Regions from separate parts of the Homo sapiens genome. Here region 2 is linked to region 1. The links come from fine-mapping of genetic effects on gene expression. A gene starts in region 1. The other region holds a variant in brackets. All regions are shown on one strand. Distances are from middle to middle. Region 1 holds the start of FGL1 (fibrinogen like 1). Region 2 overlaps PCM1 (pericentriolar material 1).

The links.
Region 2: its variant is fine-mapped to the expression of FGL1 in prefrontal cortex (CommonMind, PIP 0.93).

Annotation. Positions count from the first base shown.
Region 1 is chr8:17,888,942-17,902,089 of GRCh38, reverse strand. It overlaps FGL1 (fibrinogen like 1), which reads left to right and starts at 6,566. Exons shown (of 8, transcript NM_004467.4): 1 at 6,566-6,643.
Region 2 is chr8:17,994,545-18,002,544 of GRCh38, reverse strand. All of the region lies in intron 29 of PCM1 (pericentriolar material 1), which reads right to left. Among named protein-coding and RNA genes, the nearest start is that of PCM1, 76 kb to the right of the region's middle. The variant C/T (reference allele first, on the strand shown) is at 3,809.

The DNA of each region.
Region 1 (13,148 bases):
GCCTCCTAAAGTGCTGGGATTACAGGTGTAAGCCACCAATCCCAGGAGCCAGCCTGCTGCCTCCTTCTTTACAGAACGAATTAAACAATCATGACATTGTTTCAAGACAGAAGGAAACGAAAATTTATCGCATATTTTCTATCAGGCATTGTCATAAGCACTTCATGTAAGTTATCAAGTTTAATCGTTACCAATTTTGAATATTTACATTATATGCTAATACAAATAGGTGATATTACTATTCCATGCATAATAAATATTTCTGAGCTTCTATTGTGTGGTGTGCATATGCTGGGTGCTGTGGATATTGAAATAAGAAAAAACAAGCCCCTGATCTCCCTGGAATGAAAAGAGAAGCTCCAGTACACAATATAGTGATGTGTGATATAAGAGAAGTAAATACATAGGAGAACATCTAGCCTTGGTGGATGGGCTAGGAGAAGGGCTGGTGGCTAATTAAGACTTATTTCATTCAGAGAGGGTACATAGAAATTAGAATAGGCAAATAAAAAGGTAACAACTATATACATCACAGCAATAGAAAAGGGTACATGTATTATGGTTAATTCATTGGTGAAAGAGTCATTGGAGATGCAGTCTTAGGCTTGCCGAGCATCTTTATTGAGCCAGGCAATCTTCCATTAAACTGGACAGATCCCCACCTTTCATTTCTCTTGAAATTTCCTAATTTTGTAGTAGGAGAATGGCACATACTATGGAGCTTTTCTTGCTCACAACAGATCACCCAGCAGCCACATTTGACAAAAATTTTGGGGCCAGGGAGTAAAGGTGTGGCCTCAGTGTGTGGGTGCCATATATCTAGGTGTACACTGAAATACACAGATGGCTGGGTGTGGTAGCTCACGCCTGTAATCCCAGCACTTTGGTAGGCCGAGGTGGGCGGATCATGAGGTCAAGAGATCGAGACCTCCTGGCCAACATGGTAAAACCCCATCTCTACTAAAAATACAAAAATTAGCTGGGCATGGTGGTGCATGCCCAAGTCCCAGCTACGTGGGATGCTGACGCAGGAGAATTGCTGGAACCCGGGAGGTGGAGGTTGCAGTGAGCTGAGATTGCACCACTATCCTCCAGCCAGGCAACAGAGTGAGACTCTGTCTCAAAAAAAAAAAAAAGAAAGAAAGAAAGAAGAAAGAAAGAAAGAAAAAGAAAGAAAGAAAGGAAAGGAAAGGAAGGAAGGAAGGAAGGAAGAAAGAAAGAAAAAGAAAAAAACAGAAAGAAATACCGATGACTGGGCTAATTGGATTCTCCCTCTTAGGGATGTGAGATTTGTATGGACAGACACAGAGGCCAGAATTCCACTGAAATTAAAACATTTTAAGGGCTGCATACTACAGAATAAATCCAAGAACACATCTTTGAGAGATTTTTGGAGCTTTCCTTATTCTGCCTTCCCTTGGCTTGTATCAGTCTGTCACTGATTGTACTACTTACCTCAGTCCGTAACCCTCCAACAAATCCAATTATTTTTGTTCTAGATGGCTGAAGTTCATTTCTTCAGATTATAAACAACAACAACAAATAAAACTAGTATAAGTGTATGACTCTCAAATAGGGCCTCAATATTTCAGAATCTTTGATCGCTGGAGTCAAGCACACAATGTCTATTCTAAAAGTTCTAGAATTTTTCCACAATGTGTCTCTGAGGGGGAAGCAGGAAAAAAACATTTCAGTCTCAGAGGAATCATTTTGTAGTATACTCTTGGTCATGCCTATAGGAGTCAGGGACCTAGCCTTTGTTTTTGAGGGAGTTCTAGTTATTGGCAAAGTTATCCAAGTGCAAATATAAATTTTTAAATGTAAATTTTAAAGGTTTCATATGCCCGGTTATTGTCCCAAATGCACATGCAGAAAAATAAGTTGTGCCTGATGAACTAAATGTGGGCTAACCAACAGATTAATCAGAAAGTATGTGTAATTGTAGACAATGAATTTTTTTGTCTCTCAACCTAATGTACAGTTATTTTGAAGTGAAAGGAAACTATATCTCAGGGAATTATATTTAGATTGTCTTCCTTTTTCTAAGAAATAAAAACTGAGTAAAAAAAAGACAAAATTTAAATTCAAATGGGCAAATATATTTTTGTCAAATGTATATTTTTACATTTTCTGCTAGAGTTCAGAAATTTTGTCAGAATAGCTTGCAACCCTGAGGATTCTACTTTCAGATATTGTCATAGTGGTAGGAATCACGCATTTTCCAATTAGTTGAATTCTTCATGAAAAGATAATATTTTAAAAGTCTAAAAACTGGAGAAAAGAGGTACATATAGAGACTGGATTTAGGCATCAGGATGAAAAGATACACTGCAAATTCATCCAAAAAAAAAAAAAAAAAAGCAGATACATCATCACCGAGGAGTAGAATGAAAGCAAGTATCTTCTGATACCTTCCATCTTCCGTGTTCCTAAAGGCGTATTTTAAAATGTGGTTTTACTTAACACGAGCTCTTGTGTTCTTTTTTCCCTACATATTTTTATACAATATAGCTAAATTTCTTCTTCATGTGTTACGGGTAAAAAATCTGTTTTCTATTAGAATTTACGTGTATTTGGTTAAAATTGTTTTTTTAATGACATGTGACCTTCTGGGGAGATTCTTCTTTAATAAGAAAGATGTTATTATTCAGAAGCATAAAATAAATGCCAGTCCACAGTCCTTGCAAACACACAGAAAGAAAAACAAACATATTCCTCAGCAAGAACACTTTTTATTTTTTGTGGCAGAAAAAAAAAAAGAAAACATCTTTGTACTCTTCCTGCTAGGGAACCAATCTAAAATTAGTTTGAGAATCAGAGGGGAAAAAAATCCAAACACATAGGTGAGAAAGCTCTGAAAAGATGAGTAGTGAATAAGCGTTTCATTTTATCTTAACTAGTATGCAGGGGAGGACATAGGTTGTGTGGAACCTGAAGCTACACATTTGGGAGTATCTGCCAAATGTCTATCAGTATTACTTTTTACATGCCTCATGTAGCAGGCCTAGAGGGAGAGCAATCCAGATGTGAGCAAAAGAACAGAGAGCTCTGGGAGGAAGAAATAATGGTGCAGTGACAAAATTCCTTCTGAGGCATTCGACTTTCCTGTCCAGGAGCCTCAGAGTTACAGGCAGAGTTCAATCATAGAAGCAGAGCTTCTAGGATATATAAGGGATTTGACTTAATGCAACTGTGGGAGCTGGTTAAGTACTCTTTGAAAGGCAGCTGTCTCCAGGGATGATGTTGGAGCTTGAAGTACGAACTGCAGTTAAGCGAGAGAGTAGATGAGCGTAATAGAAGCAGGAGCTGGAATCTATGAGGACGGACTGAAACCTGTGTCAGTTCTTGTTGCCTCTGACCTTGGTTGATGTGGGTGTCCTACAGAAGCCAGACCCATTTGTAATGTGCTAAACGAGGCTCCAAATTATATCCAAAGGGAAGTGAAACAGCTGGAGGCTTAGCCACTATCTTAAGGCCAACGAGATACGTTACAGCATGGGAGAGCTGCAAAGATGGCTGCCACTTCCTTTCTGCCTGCCAACTGCTCCTAATGGAAAACATAAGGCAAAAGGAATTCTGGGAACTGTAGTTCGGCCTACCCAAGTTGACACATTACAAAGCACCTCAATTTTTCTTTTCTTCCTCTTTTTCTTTATCCACCTTTACCCTTATTTTTCTAGTTCATATTGTCAGAATCTTTCCCAGAAAGTGTGTGTGAAGGTGGAACTATTTATTGATCATCTATTAATGTAAACTTTCTGCTAGTTACATCAATAATGGGAATACTTAGGATAACTCACTAGTAAAACTGTTTTAGTTTTATTAATTTTAAAATGCTTCTCCATTGAAATTTCTGAGACCTACGTTATGTGCAAATAAACTTTCTAGTTTTTCAGGACTCTGCCTGAGATGACATTGAAACCAGCATTTCAGGAAGGAATTTGATTACCTCCACCTGAGGAAGCTCTGCTAGTTGTGTGGAACGAAGACTGTTCTTAACAACCCCTTTCCTTGATATCTACAATACGCTCCGTTCTAAATATTTTAATAAAGGGCACATTTGAAGTTTAAAATGTTATCATTGTAATCAGAGCATGGAGTTTTATAAGTCCCATAAAAGGGTGCCTCCTGAACTGGGAGTCAAGTTTGGAAAATATAACCATCAGAAATTTATGCTGGTAGAATACAGTCAAGGATATAAGATCATTTGTCTGAGTCTAGTTCCTCATGCAGCCTTAAGTAGACATGTTCCTCGCTGCAAGCTTGAGTGGACTGGAGGCGGCAAGATCTGGAATTAAACCTTCCCACGGTGACTGGGTCAAGTATCAAATAATGGACAGGTGTTCAATCTGGCAGGCACAATACAGGGTCCAGAGGGTTTGGATGAAAATTGTGCTGTAACTGATGTATTAATTGAAGAGTTCTCTGAAAAAGGTCTTCCAAAAGGAAAAGGAAAAAAGAATTGACAGTGTCCGTTTAATGTGTTTGAGAGCCTAATCAGCCTGATCTTGGTGGGACTGTACTTGTTGTCCTATTATATCATGCTTTTCTTGTACTTTTTTCAGCCAGTGATCTCAGGTCTCATTCTCATTTCATAGCTTTGGTGCAGTTGTGCAAGGTCACAACTCTTCTTTCTTGCTTTTTTTCTTTTTCTTTTTTTTTGACAGGGTCTTGCTCTGTCACCCAGGCTGCAGTGCAGTGGCGCGATCTCGGCTCACTGCAATCTCTGCCTCCTGGGTTCAAGTAATTCTCCTCCTCAGCCTCCTGTGTAGCTGGTACCACAGACGCCCACCACCACACCTGGATAATTTTTGTAGTTTTAGTAGAAACTAAAAATACATGGGGTTTTGCCATTTTGGCCAGGCTGGTCTCGAACTCCTGACCTCAGGTGATCCACCTGCCTCAGCCTCCCAAAGCGTTGGGATTACAGGCGTGAGCCACCGCACCTGGCCATAATTTTGACCTTTCCTGATGATAGTTCTTCCACCATGTTATGGCAGTACATCCATGGAATAATGTTACTCCAAGAAAATTTGGCTTTTGGAATTCCTCCACAAAGTATTGGCCCTAGAGTAGTCCTTACTGCCTGATTAACTTTTGCAAGTTTCTCCTGAGGTAATGATGCTAGCCAAGTTTCCGAAAGACAGCATAGTCTACCTTTAGTAGAAAAGAGGACAGATTCTGAGCAGGATTGCCTTTGAGCCCAGCTATACCTCTTGTTAGCTGTGTGACCTCGTGCAAGTCACTTAAACCTCTGTGTCTCAGTTTCGTCATTTGTGAAATGGAGATCATTAACAGTACCTACTTATAGGGCTGTGTGGCTGAGTGAGTTGATAAAATTACCATGTTTAGCACATGATAAGTATACCACATGTTAGCTGCTGTTAATGTTATGTCCCTCCAGTGAGGAAATGAACACAAGGCTAAATTATTGCTTGAATGGGGACAAAGCTAAAGGCATACAAGAAGGAAAGATAAGTTTGTATTTCAAAATATGTCATTTTACCACAGAGATCATTATTGAATTAGCCGAATAATCCCATATTTTTGCTTTTGAAATTTAACATTAGCAGCTTGAATTCTCTACAATTATGAATGTATAATTTCCACTTCTTCTGTGTGTGTGCAAATCACTTCAGTCTAACTGGCTTTTTTTTTCCTTCTTTTTTCCAGTAAATCAACAGGATTACCTTTCCCTTAATAATCTTCAAAATGTCCACGTGAAGGACAGGAAGATGTTTAATGGGAAGACCAAACATCGTCAGTGCTCAAGTCCAGTAGATAACAAAGAACAGAAAGAAAACAAAACTTTGGTATTTTACTGGAATCTGAGTGAATAAATAGGGACCACAGGACAAATGGCAAACAACTGCTTGAGTTACATCAGAAGGAAAGAAGAAATGATGAACCCAGATTTCCAGTAAGAAACTGTTACACAATACGATTAATGGAGCTAACAAGTGCCTATTACACATTAGAAAATCTTCTAGAGGATTTTAAAACAAAAGGAACAACTTGTCCAGAGTATAATCGATGCTTCCAGTTAAATTTCACAATTTTGCACCTCAGGGAATACTTTTGTTTTTCTTAGAGAGCAAATAAACTGACCATTTCACCTTGGCAATTATTAACCTGCCTTGTTTTTTATAACTAGGAAAAATTTGGCTTATCTCCATATTTTAGTTGAGATGACATATTAATTCATATTTTTGTGGGTAAAATGTTATTACCCTTAATACAAAGCAAAGTTTCAGCTGGACTTCGTTTTTACTTAATCTTCAATGGAACATTATTGAAGTTACAGTACAAAAATTCTCTGAATGAACATAATAATAAGTTGTAAAATATATATATCTTTATAAAGATATATTATTGGATCTTTCACAAAAAGTCATACAAGTGGGGAAAAAAGAAAAATATCAGAGTATTGGGATTTGTCCTTGAATCTTCTCTTTTAGCTTTCTTTCAGTTAAACCTGTGTCCACATGTTTGTTTCTGGATTGAAGCCAGAATCAACATTGTCCCTATTTCTAATCAAATAATGGAGAAATAATTACAAATTCCCAATGCAGTTACAGGATCCTGGGAAGCAGAGTGTCTGGATGGAACCTGAGCTGGGTCTCTGACTCACTTCTGACTTTAGGCAAGTTATTTAATGTCTCTGCATTTTTGACATGCTTGTAATAATGCTAATTTATTTCACAGGTATGATAGTAACCAAAACTCAGGTAACAACCATTAGCTTTTGCAAGAAGTCAGGTTGACTAGCAAGGAGTCTGCTTCTGCTACTTGGAGAAGAGATTTAGAATTATGTATCTTTTGTTACAGATATACAGATATACAAATATACAGATATACAAATAAGGTATGTTAGAATTACAAATGAGGAAAATGGAAAATTTTAGAGAACTTAAGATATTCTCAGGAATTATTCTAAAGCTAATCAAAGTAATATAATGACTTTCTAAATATGTATAATTACATTTTGAAATGCTTTATTGTTTATATGCTACCAGACTAGGGGGTGCCTTTTTGATTATTGGATTATCTTAATGGTAATGAGATGAACATTTCAGGACATCAAGAGACAGAGGCCTGTCAAAAAAATTTCATTAGCCCTTTATTTTTTACTAAATCTAATGCTAAGCAATATTTATATACCTTATATAATGTATATATAATCTATAATATATACATAATTATGTATAATAATGTTACGTACATACATATACATATATATACAGTGTGCGCAGGTAAAATTATATGATATATAGGTGCATCACCCAGAGCATTTTCAAAACATACTTCCATTTATGCAAGAGCCAGAATCAAACATTGGAATAAGAAAATTTCTTTTTTAAGCTCTAGGCGTTTTTTGTTGTTGTCGTTTGTTTGTTGGTTTTTTGAGATGGAGTCTCACTTTGTATAATTTCCTTTACATTTTGAATGAATTGCATGGGAGTTTGACGTAAATGATAGGTTTACAGTTTCAGTATAAAAAATTAAAAATAAAATGGACTATATGACAATTTTCACTTCAGAAGTCAAAAAACTTCAGAAACATTTTTCTTTATTGCATTTCTTGAGGGATCAACTATATTTAGCTTTGTAAGGCTTTCAGTGAGTATGGATTCTTAAGAAAAATACAAAAGCACAGTTATATTCCATTTTCAGAAAGAGGAAAAAATTTGGAAGGAAATAGCTTAAAAGGAGTCTCTAAGCTTGTGTTTATGGGTACATTTTTAACTCACTGACTTAGGTTATAGTCCTAAGCATTATAGTCCTATAGCGTTTGTGAATGCTAACTTATTAAACATACTTCGTTCAATAACTTTTTCCTTCCTTTTTATTTCTTTTATATATCCTTTTACAATGCTTGCTTAAAACATACCAGTTTTGAAATGTTTGCATGCTACTAATGTACTTCTGTTTTGTAATTGTTTTTAAAAATTATATATTATTTTTAGAACTTTTCATTTACAAATTTAATGTCTTCATCTTTAAATTTAATGCAGCGTAATTAATTAAATTTTTTTTAAATATAGTGGGGAAGGAATTAGAATTTATAGCATTAAAATTATGTAAAATAATATAGTCCACCAAAGAACAGCCATTTGATAACAATTTTAATTTTATAATAATTAAAAGTTTTGATACTGCCTAAGGCAAAAATATTATAAAAGAAATACAACTAATTGTGCAATAAATGAACAGAATAATTTGATACAACTTTACTGTAAGCCAGATGTGCAGAAGAAATAATGGTTTACTATAATGAATGATGGAGACCAGAATTTCAAAGCAAGTTTCTTAATGCTTAGCATTTCTTCAATATTACAGAGAATGTTGGTTAGAATTGCAAAGGAGGAAAATGGAAAATTTTAGAGAACTTAAGATATTCTCAGGAATTATTCTAAAGCTAATCAAAGTAATATAATGACTTTCTAAATGTAAATAATTACATTTTGAAATGCTTTATTGTTTATATGCTACCAGACTAGGGGGTGCCTTTTTGATTATTGGATTATCTTAATGGTAGTGAGATAAACATTTCAGGACATCAAGAGACAGAGGCCTGTCAAAAAAATTTCATTAGCCCTTTATTTTTTACTAAATCTAATGCTAAGCAATATTTATATACCTTATATAATGTATATATAATATAATCTATAATATATACATATTATGTATAATAATGTTATGTTCATACATATACGTATATATACAGTGTGCGTAGGTAAAATTATATGATATATAGGTGCATCATTCAGAGCATTTTCAAAACATACTTCCATTTATGCAAGAGCCAGAATCAAACATTGGAATGAGAAAATTTCTTTTTTAAGCTCTAGGTGTTTTTTGTTGTTGTTGTTTGTTTGTTTGTTTTTTGAGATGGAGTCTCACTCTGTCACCCAGGCTGGAGTGCAGTGGTGTGATCTTGGCTCACTGCAACCTCTGTCTCCCAGGTTCAAGCAATTCTCATGCCTCAACCAACACAGTAGCTGGGATAAAAGGTGTGTGCCACCACACCTGGCTAATTTCTTTGTATTTTTAGTAGGGACGGGGTTTTGCCATGTTGGCCATGCTGGTCTCAAACTCCTGACCCAAGTGATCTGCCTGCCTCAGCCTCTCAACGTGCTGGGATTACAGGCATGAGCCACCACGCCTGGCTAAGCTCTAACTTTTTAAGCTAATTTATTCACTTCTGAAATAAAGTACTTGATCCCACAAATGCATAAGAAAACTTTAATCAAATAAAAAAATTTTTCAACAAATAACATTAAAGCAAAGTCTAGAAGATACAGACATTTCATGATTTTTAATTTTTGACTCCTGAATATTATCTGGGAGCGGATTAAAATAATGAAAATTTGTTTCCTGTCACATAAAAAAAGAGGACATTATTTTTACTACTAATCCTTAGCAGTTTCATTTATCAAGGAAAAATCCTAATCAGTAATCTATTAAATACATTGGTTATTTTCAGTCAGAAGAACAATTTGAGTTGGAGTCACAAATAAATGGTATTTATGTCATGTCGTTATGCTGATTTCCCAGACTAGTGTAAATATACTTAGTGAAAGTCTCTTTTATTTCTTTAGGCAAACAATTTTCCCTCTCTGAGCCTCTAGTGTTGATGATATTTGACTGAATGATGTCACTTCCTCTAATTATATTTTCTCTGCATGTTCTAGTCTCGGGGAACAAGGCTATTTCTAAAATCTCTTTATATTTTTTAAATATTTTGTTTTCCATCTTTATTTTCTTTTGCTTCCTTATAATAAAATGTTTTTGTTTCTTATTTTCTGTAACATGAAAAATACTTTATGACTGTATGTCTGTGACTATGCAATTGTTTATGTTTAAGAAATTGCCATTTGCATAAGGGCATTTATTTTTTTCCTTTATGCTACTTGAGTTTTGTGATAAATTTTAAAATTAGATAGTTAAAGACACAAGGGTACAAATTTAAAAAGCAACATAGCTATTATAATTTTGCTCAAAAAACATATTTATTGCCAACTGAAAACACGAGTCAAACTAAAAACTTATTATGAGATAGCTATGGTAATGACCTTGGCCCAGTGAGAGAGCCAACTTTCAAATATCTTAGGTATTATGTTTTCAGGTATATATTTTCTTTTGGGATTTTATAAATCCAAATGTCTCTTTTAAAACCAAAATAAGCTGTTACATATTGACATGACATATTTGCAAATCACAAAAAAGTTTATGAAAAGCATAATTCATTAAGAGTAGTTATTTTTGTTGTTGCTGGAAGGGTGAAGATGGAGGGAATCTGATAAAGACATCTTATAAATTCAACAGACACAAAAGAATTTGATCTCCCATAAGCAACTGTGAAATTACAATAACAGATCCTGGGAAGTTCTACAATTCTAATTCAGGTTTACAAGTTTTCTTCTCATCTATTCAGTAGATATTTTGTCGAGTACCTGTGCTAGGTTCAGCTGTGCCCCCAAAACATGTACATTCCTAACTTTTATTACCTGTGAATGTGATCTCATTTGCAAATAGGGTCTTTGTACATGTAACTGAGTTAAGATGAGGTCATACTGGATTAGGGCAGACCCTAATCCAATGACCGATGTCCTTATATGAAGAGGGAAATTAGACACAGAGACACACAGAGGAAAGACAGCTATGTGAAGATGGTATCAGAGAATAGAGTGATACTGCCACAAGTCAAAGGATGTCAAGAATTGCTGGCAACCACCAAATGCTAGAAGAGTCCAGAAAGGATTTTCTCTTAGAGCCTTTGAAGGAAGTATGGCCCTGTTCTTCTTGATTTTGGACTTGTATCCTCCAGAACTGTGAGATAATAAACTCCTGTTGTTTTAGGCCACTCAGTTTATGGTAATTTGTTATGGTGGCCTCAAGAAACTAGTACAGTACCTAACTATCCACCTAGCATTAGGGCAGTATACATAATAGATGTAGCCACTCACCTCTTCGTGCTTACATTGTACAGGGCGGTTGGAGTAGGTAGACAATAAACACATATATTATAATATTTCATTATATTTGGTGATAAGTGCTAAGGAGAAACTGAATCCATTGTGATAGAGATATGAAGTGTGTGGGTGATGTTGTTTGCGTGTGTCTCCACCCAAATCTCATCTTGAATTGTAGTTCTCGTAATCCCACATGTTATGGGATGGACCCAGTGGAAGGTAATTGAATCATGGGGGCAGCTACCCCCATGCTGCTGTTTTCGTGATAGTGAGTTCTCCTGAGATCTGATGGTTTTATAAGGGGCTTTTGCTTGGCTCTTCCCCTTCCTGCCATCATGTGAAGAAGGACATGTTTGCTTCCCCTTCCACCACGACTGTAAGTTTCCTGGGGCCTCCCCAGTCATGGCAAACTGTGAGTCAATTAAACCTTTTTCCTTTATAAATTACCCAGTCTCAGGCAGATCTTTACTGGGTAAATTTATAAAATGAGAATGGACTAAGACAGTAGGGGACAGCTGTTATTTTATATGTGGTAGTCAGGGAAGGTATCTCTGGGAAGGGAATACCTGAGCAAAGACCTGAAGGATGTCATGGAGCAAACCACAGAGATTTTCAGAAGAGCATTCCAGGTAGAGAGAACAGCAAGTGCAATCGCCCTGAGAAGTCTGTGTATTTCAGGGTTTTCCAAAAATGCCAAAGAGGCCAATGTAGCCAGAACAGGCAAAAATGATGGGAAAAGAGATGTGTTGAGGAGGTGGATGCTCACAGATTATGTAAAGCTTTGTCGGTGAATGACCAAATATCCCGGTTTGCCCAGGAAAGGCTCAGTATAGAATGTTGTCTCATTGTAATTCTAAAAAATTGTTTGGAATCTTCCATTGGTAGCTTGGGCCAGACATTAGCAATAGAGGTGGTGAGAAATGATTGGATGTTGTATAAATTTTGAACGTAGAGTCTTTCCTTAGGAAAGTTACTTTGCTTCACTATTTGAGCTTCCTTTAGTAAAAAGTAAACATAATGTGTCTTCTAAAGACATCGTGAGATTTCATGTGTTGATGATGTATTAGCAATTTTGTAAACATATTTTAAATGGCACACATTAATGTATTAACATGGGAGGCAGCATTGATATAAAAACAGGTTCTTGCCAATTTGTTCTCTCTCTGATCAAGTAAGCTGCAAACAGTATATTTTGAACCTATTTTTTTGGTATTCATTGTAGTATAAATGGTTATAATGATTTTCAAGTGTGTTCTTCCTATCTAAACAATATGCATTAATTTGAAACAATGAAATTGCCATTTTTCTAAGTCAGAAATGTTCAAACATCTGCCATTTCTTATAGTTCAACATAATACAGTAAGAAAGGATTAACCAGGCAATAAAGAAAGAGGTTCAGGAGATTTGGGAGATATTCCCAGGGGATATCCCCAGAGGCTGAATGGTCCTGGAGAAATCATAAGCATCCTTGTGCTTGTTTTCTTATTTTCACTGTGAGGCTAATGAAATAAAATAAAATGGCCAATTAAAATTTGATAGTGTTTTGATAGTGTTGTTGTTGTTTGAGGTGGAGTGTCGCTCTGTCACCCAGGCTTAACTACAGTGAGACAATCTCAGCTCACTGCAACCTCCGCCTCCCAGGTTCAAGTGATTCTCATGCTTCAGCCTCCCGAGTAGCTGGGATTACAGGTGTGCACCACCACACCTGGCTAATTTTTGTATTTTTAGTAGCGATGGAGTTTTATCATGTTGGCCAGGCTGGTCTTGAACTCCTGGCCTCTGGCGATCCTCCCACTTCGTCCTCCCAAAGTGCTGAGATTACAGGCGTAAGCCACCACGCCCAGCCAAAGTTCGGCAGAGTGTTTAGTGATGCCCAAACACAAACACAATATGGTTTCAGATGAGTATTCCTTATTTTTCCAATCCACGTTAGACTTGGGGAAATAGCCCTTGTCCCCTTGATGATGGGCCCTTTAATGTAAGTAATATTGCAGCCTTGCAGAGGTACATTCTACTTGAATGGCTAGCTCATTTTTATATAATGCCCCAGGCCACGCAGGCTGCTTGGCATCTTTGTGGAACTACGCTTACTGTCCCATCAAGCCTGTTTAGCAATTATTGTGTGTCATTATTAAAATATTATTCTCTTATTGTGAAGAAAAGATACTAAAG
Region 2 (8,000 bases), 100 kb before region 1:
ATGCACACGTATGTTTATTGCGGCACTATTCACAATAGCAAAGACTTGGAACCAACCCAAATGTCCAACAATGATAGACTGGATTAAGAAAATGTGGCACATATACACCATGGAATACTATGCAGCCATAAAAAATGATGAGTTCATATCCTTTGTAGGGACATGGATGAAATTGGAAACCATCATTCTCAGTAAACTATCGCAAGAACAAAAAACCAAACACCGCATATTCTCACTCATAGGTGGGAATTGAACAATGAGATCACATGGACACAGGAAGGGGAATATCACACTCTGGGGACTGTGGTGGGGTCGGGGGAGGGGGGAGGGATAGCATTGGGAGATATACCTAATGCTAGATGACACATTAGTGGGTGCAGCGCACCAGCATGGCACATGTATACATATGTAACTAACCTGCACAATGTGCACATGTACCCTATAACTTAGAGTATAATAAAAAAAAGAAAAAAAAAAAAAGAAAAAAAAAATTTAACAGATCTCTCCACAAAAAAAAAAAAAAAAAAAAAAAAAAAAAAAAAAAAAAAAGAAAGGTTAGAAGCAGCGGCAAAAGGATAGTAAGGCCATTTAGGAACTGTTGCAATTGCCCAGAACAAGGCTACGTGTTTCTGTTTTTACATGGAATAATCTGGACACGATCAGCTGACTTTTTCCTCTCAGCTGTAAAGTCAGATACAGAGAAAGCAGTTTCTACAGGTGCTTTCTCAAAGATCTCTCTTCTCTCAAAACATTCCAAAAAAAAGCAATTACTTCTGCTGAGGGAAGAAATATGAGCACAATGGAAGCAATTCTCTGTGGTACATGTCTTACAAAGAAAAGTATGAGTACAATATAAGAAACTAGCCCAGTGACAATGTATTTTGTAGTTTACCATATCTAGATGAAAAGAAAACAATTACTTTTCACTTCTAATTGTTAAAACTTCCATTTTAAATTAGAATGTAATGAATGCCATCTCAGAAAGAAGTCCTGTCTTCCTATTCCATTTGTTGCACATGTCTCCATCTGCCCTGATCAATGTTGTTAAATGAAATTAATAGTACTGCTTACCAGTCTGATACTATCAATGTTGATGGGAATATAAACTGGTTAGTTTCTCTGAAGGACAATCAGCTTGTCTAAAAAGCTTTAAAAATGTTTATGACCTTTGAACTAAAAATTTTATGTCTAAAAATTGTTTCTAGAGAAACAAAAGTAAACAGATTACCTTCAATCATTCAATAAGTGTTTGTAATAGTGGAAAAGAAACCAGAATAAACACAAATATTTAACAACAGGGACTGAAAAAATAATTAATAGAAAATTGTATTTTATGACTACTTGACCTCATAGCAGCCATCAACATAACTAACTCCTTGCAGTCCTTCTTGGTCAACCCTGGCTCCGCTTTTGTACAACTTACAAATGCTGAATCACCTGGTCCCACATCACAGTTGCAAGGCCCCTTTCTATTCTCAAATCAAATGCCCTGGCTTTAGGCAGCAGCTATATGCTATAATCTACCTTATGTCTATCTCCAGCTGTGCCTGGAATTAGCTGAGTAACCAAATGACTACTTGACCTCTCTACGATTGTCTAAAAGACAGTTCAATTTTAAAGTACAAAATAAAACTCTTGGCTGGCACAGTGGCTCGAGCCTATAATCCCAGCACTTTGGGAGGCCCAGGCGGGTGCATCACTTGAGGTCAGCGTGGTCAACATAGGGAAACACCATCTCTACTAAAAATACAAAAAGCAAGCCAGGCATGGTGACAGGCACCTGTAGTCCCAGATACTTGGGAGGCTGAGGTGGGAGAATCGCTTGAACCCAGAAGGCAAGGGTTGCAGTGAGCCGAGATCGCGCCACTGCATTCCCGCCTGGGTGATAAGAGTGAGCCTCTGTCTCAAACCCCACCCCCCTCAAAAAAAACAGAGCTCTTCATCTCCCCCTTCTCCCAAGCCTTCTTCATTTTGGTAAATCGTATTTCCTCCTAGCCAGTTTTCTCTCTCTCTCGACACTCTACCCATTAGTAGGACCTACTGATTTCCTAACTATATCCCAATTACGTATTTCTTTATCACCACCCTTATCTAAGCCACTATCATTTCTCTTCTGATCTCACTGCACTCCTGACCCCCTTATAATCAATTTTCTAAAAACAAGCCAGACTTTTTTTCTCTGCTTAAAATCTTCTAGGAGTTTCCCTTCAAACTTTGAGCAAAGTCCAAACTTCTAACCATGGCCTGTAATATTTTATACAATTAGCCCTTGCCTCCCTTTCAACTTAGTCTCATACAAATATCCTCCAACCATATAGACTTTCCCTCTAGTTCCTTCAACACGCGAAGCTAATTCTCACCTTAAGGCCAGTGCACTGTCTAGAACAATCCTGGTTTACACTGGCTCCTTAGTCACATCTCTACTTAAATGTTCCCTCATTAGAAGCTTTCCCTGATCATCCAATATAAAACAGACACCATCATATCACCAAATTTTAATTCTGAGCATGGCCTGTATCATTAACTGATAAACAGTTACTTATATGTCTTTTATTTACTTATGTTATTTCAGAGTGTATTCCCACTCTAGCATGCAAGCTCCATGAGAACAAAGGCCTTGTTCACTGCTAGGTCTGCCAAACCTGGCATTAAGTAGGCATTTTATAAATATTTTGGAATGAATGTTGTGGATCCATTAAAAAAAAAGGCAGGGGTGGAGCAAGATGGCAGAACAGAAGCCTCCACCAATCATCTTCCCCTTCTGGAACACCAAATTTTAACAACTACACACAAAAAAAGCACCATTATAAGAATAAAAACCAGGTGAGCAATCATGGTACCTGCTTTTAACTTTGTATTGCTGAAAGGGACACTGAGGGTAGGAAAGACCATCTTGAATTGCTGACGCCACCCCTCCCCCAACCCCAGGCAGCACTGACTGCAGCAATGCAAGTGACTCCTTCTGCTTGAGGAGACGAGAGCAAGGAGTAAAAAGGACTTTGTGTTGTATCTTGGATACCAGCTCAGCCACAGCTACAACAGGGCACCGGCAGAGTCGTGAGGTCGCCATTCCAGGCCCCAGCTCCAAGATGACATTTTTAGATACACTCTGGCCCAGAAGGAAACCCACTGCCTTAAAGGGAAAGACCCAGTCCTGGAAGGATTAATCTTGGCTTAATCTTAACCTGCTGACTAAAGAGCCCTTGAACCTTGAATAACTGACAGTGATACCCATGTAGTATGCCATGGGCCTTGGGTGAGACTCAGAGATGTTCTGGCTTCAGGTGAGATCCAACGTATACTGAGCTGTGATGGCTATGGTGAAAGATTCCTTCTGCTTGAGAAAAGTAGAGGAAAAAGGGGACTTTGTCTTGCACCTTAAGTACCAGAGCGATCACAGTGGGGTAGAGCACCAAGCAGGCTCCTGGGATCCGCAATTCGAGAACCTGGCTCCTGGACAGCATTTCTGGACCTGCCCTGGGCCAGAGGAGAGCCCACTGCCCTGAAGGGTGAGTCCCAGGCCTGGCAGCATTCACCACAAGCTGACTAAAAAGCCCTTGGGCTTTAAATGAATATTAGCAGAACTCATGGGCCGGTGGTCACAGTGGTAGCCACCAGGAGAGACTCCTTTGCTTATGGAAAGCAGAGGTAAAAGTGGGAAGGACTTTGTCTTGTGGTTTAAAGGCCAGCTTAGCCACAGTAGGACAGAATACCAGGTAGATTTCTAAGCTCAAGGACAGTATCTGTGGACCCATTAGGGACCTGGGGGAACTCACTGCCCTGAAGGGAAAGACACAAACCTGGCTGG[C/T]TTCCCCACCTGCTAATAGTAGGAACCCTAGGGCCTTGAGCGAATTTAGGCAAATTTAGGCGGTAGTCAGGTAGTGGTTACAGAGGGTCTTGGGCAAGCCCCAGTGCTGTGCTGTGCTGGCTTTAGGTATGACCCAGCACAGTCACAGTGGTAAGTCACCAAAGGGGTGCCTCCATCACCCCATCTCCATCCAGCTCCAGGCATTTCAACACAGAGATTCCATTTATTTGAAAGAAAGTAAAGGAAGAGAACAGAAGTCTCCACCTGGTAATTCAGAGAATTCTTCTGGATCTTATCCAAAATCACCAAAGTGGTATACCGCTATGAGTCTGCAAAAAGCACAGTGTTTTTGGGCTTGGGACCCAAGTCCCTTTGAATACCTGGAAAGCTTTCCCAAGAAGAATGGGCACAAACAAGCCCAGACTGTGAGGCCTACAAGATACAAGGCCTATATATAACTCTTCAATGCCCAGACACCAACAAACATCCACAAACATCAAGACCATACAGAAAATCACGACCTCAACAAAGGGACCAAAAATCATGACCTCAACAAAGGGACCAAATAAGGCACCAGTGGCCAATCCTGGAGAGAGATATGTGACCTTTCAGACAGAGAATTCAAAATAGCTGTCTTGAGGAAACTCAAACAAATTCAAGATAACACAGGAAGGGAATTCAGAATTTTTTTTTTTTTTTTTCAGACGGAGCCTTGCTCTGTCACCCAGGCTAGAGTGTGGTGGCACAATCTCGGCTCACTGCAACCTCCGCCTCCCGGGTTCAAGCGATTCTCCTGCCTCGGCCTCCCAAGTAGCTGTCATTATAGGTGCGCACCACCATGTCCAGCTACTTTTTTTTTTTTTTTGTATGTTGTAGTAGAGGCGGGGTTTCACCGTGTTGGCCAGGCTGGTCTCAAACTCCTGACCTCAAGTGATCACCCGCCCCAGCCTCCCAAAGTGCTGGGATCACAGGTGTGAGCCATAGCACCTGGCCGGGAATTCAGAATTCTATATTCATAGATAAATTTAATAAACAGATTGAGATAATTTAAAAGAATCAAGCAGAAATTCTAGAGTTGAAAAACGCAACTGACATACTAAAGAATGCATCAATCTCTCAATAGAATTGATCAAGCTAAAGAATTAGCTTGAAGACAGGCTCTTTGAAAACACACAACTTGAGGAGACAAAAGAAAAAAAAAGTAAAACACAATAAAGCACACCTACAGGATCTGCAAAATAACCTCAACAGGACAAATCTAAGTTATTGGCCTTAAAGAGGGGGTAGAGAGAGACAGAGGTAGTAAGCTTAACAACATTCAAGTACAAGAAGGTTACAGAAAACCAGGATAGTTTAATCCAAATAAGACTATCTCAAGGCATTTAATAATCAAACTGCCAAACATCAAGGATAAAGAAAGGACCCTAAAAGCAGCAAGAGAAAAGAAACAAATAACATATAATGGGGTTCCAATATATCTGGCAGTAGACTTGTCACTAGAATCCTTACAGGTCAGGAGAGAGTGTCATGACATGTTTCAAGTGCTGAAGGAAGAAAACTTTTACCCTAGAATAGTACATCCAGCAAAAATATCCTTCAAACACGAAGGAGAAATACTTTCCCAGACAAAAGCTGAGGGATTTCATCAACACCAGACCTGTCTGACAAGAAATACTAAATACTTTATTTCCATCTAAAAGAAGACATTAATGAGCAGTAAGATATCGTCTGAAGGTACAAAATTCACCAGTAATAGAAAGTACACAGAATATTATAACACTGTAATTGTGGTGTGTAAACTACTCTTAAGTGGAAAGACAAAATGATGAACCAACCAAAAATAGTAGCTACAACAACTTTTCAAGACATGGTACAGTAAGATATAAAGAGAAACAACAAAGAGTTAAAAAGCAGGGAAACAAAGTTAACATTTGCATAAGTTTTCATTTTGTTTGCTTGTTTGTTTATGCAATCAGTGTTATCGGTTTAAAATACTGAGTTATAAGACAGTATTTGCAATCCTCATGGTAACCTGAAATCCAAAAACATACATATAACAGATACGAAAACAATGGATGTTAAAAAACAAGAAAAGCATGAGCAAACCAAACCCAAAATAGAAGAAATAATAAAGATCAAAGCAGAAATAAATGAAATTGAAATAAAATACAAAAGAGCAACGAAACAAAAAGTTGGTATTTTAAAAGATACATAAAATTGGCAAACCATTAACCAGACTAAGAAAAAAAGACAAAAAACCCAAATAATATCAGAGATGAAAAAGGAGACATTACAACCGATACCTCGGAATTCAACAACACATTAAAAAGATGATCCATCGTGACCAAGTGGGATTTATCCCAGGGATGCAAGGATGGTTCAACATAGGTAAATCAATCAATGTAATACATCATATCAACAGAATGAAGGACAAAACCCATATGATCATTTTAACTGATGCTGAAAAACCATTTGATAAAATTCAACATCCTTTCATGATAAAAGCCCTCAAAAAACTGGGTATAGAAGAAACATACCTCAACATACTAGAAGCCATATACAACAGACCCACAGCTAGTATCATACTAAATGGGGAAACACTGAAAGCCATTCCTTTGTGATCTGGAACACAACAAGGATGTCCACTTTCACCACTGTTATTCAACATAGTACTGGAAGTCCTAGCTAGAGTAATCAGACAAGAGAAAGAAATAGAGGGGATCCAAACTGGAAAGGAAGAATCAAATTATCCTTGTTTGTATATGATATATATATAATCTTATACTTGGAAAAGCCTAAAGACTCCACAAGAATACTATTAGAACTGATCAACAAATTCAGTAAAGTTGCAGGATACAAAGTCAACACACAAAAATCAGTAGCATTTCTATATGCCACCAGTAATCTCATTTACAACAGACACAAATAAAATTAAATACCTAAGAATTAACCAAATAAGTGAAAGATCTCTACAATGAAAACTATAAAACACTGATGAAAGAAATTTAAAAAGACACAAAAAGGGAAAGATATTCCATGTTCATGGATTGGAAAAATCAATATTGTTAAAATGTCTGTACTCCCCGAAGCAATCTACAGATTCAATACAATTGTGATCAAAATACCAATGACATTCTTCACAGAGAAAAAAGAATCCTAAAATTTATAGGAACCACAAAAAAAGCTCAGAACAGCCAAAGCTATCTTGAGCAAAAAGAACAAAACTGGAAGAATCACATTAACCTGCCTTCAAATTATACCACAGAGCTATAGTAACCAAAACAGCGTGGTACTGGCATACAAACAACAGAAACACAGACCGACAGAACAGAACAGAGAACCCAGAAACACAGACCGATAGAACAGAACAGAGAACCCAGAAACAAATCCACATACCTACAATAAACTCATTTTCAACAAAGGTGCCAAGAACATACAGTGGGGAAAAGACAGTCTCTTCACAATAAATGGTGCTGGGGTAACTGGATATCCATATGCAGAGGAATGAAACTAGACCTCTATCTCTCACCATATACAAAAGTCAAATCAAAATGGATTAAAGACATAAATCTAAGACCTCATACTATGAAACTATTATATGAAAACAGTGGGGAAACTCTGCAGGACATTGGTCTGGGCAAAAATTTCTTGAGTGATACCCCACAAGCACTGGCAACCAAAGCAAAAGCAGACAAATGGGATCACATCAAGTTAAAAAGCTTCTGCACAAGAAAAGAAACAAACAACAAAGTGAAGAGACAACCCACAGAATGAGAGAAAATATGTGCAAACCATCCGACAAGGGATTAATAACCAGCATATATAAAGAGTTCAAACTCTATAGGAAAAAATCTAATAATCTAATTTTAAAATGTGCAGAAGATCTGAAGACACACTTCTCAAAAGACGACATACAAATGGCAAACAGGCACATAAAAGGTGCTCAACATGATCACGGAAATGACAATCAAAACTACAACGAGAAATCATCTCACCTCTGTTAAAATGGCACTTATCCCAAAGACAGGCAATAATAAATGCTGGCGAGGATGTGGAGAAAAGGGAACTTTCATACACTGCTGGTGGGAATGTAAATTAGTACAACCCCTCTGGAGAACAGTTTGGAAGTTGCTCAAAAAACTGAAAATACAGCAAGAGCTACCATATGATCCAGCAATCCCACTGCTGGGTA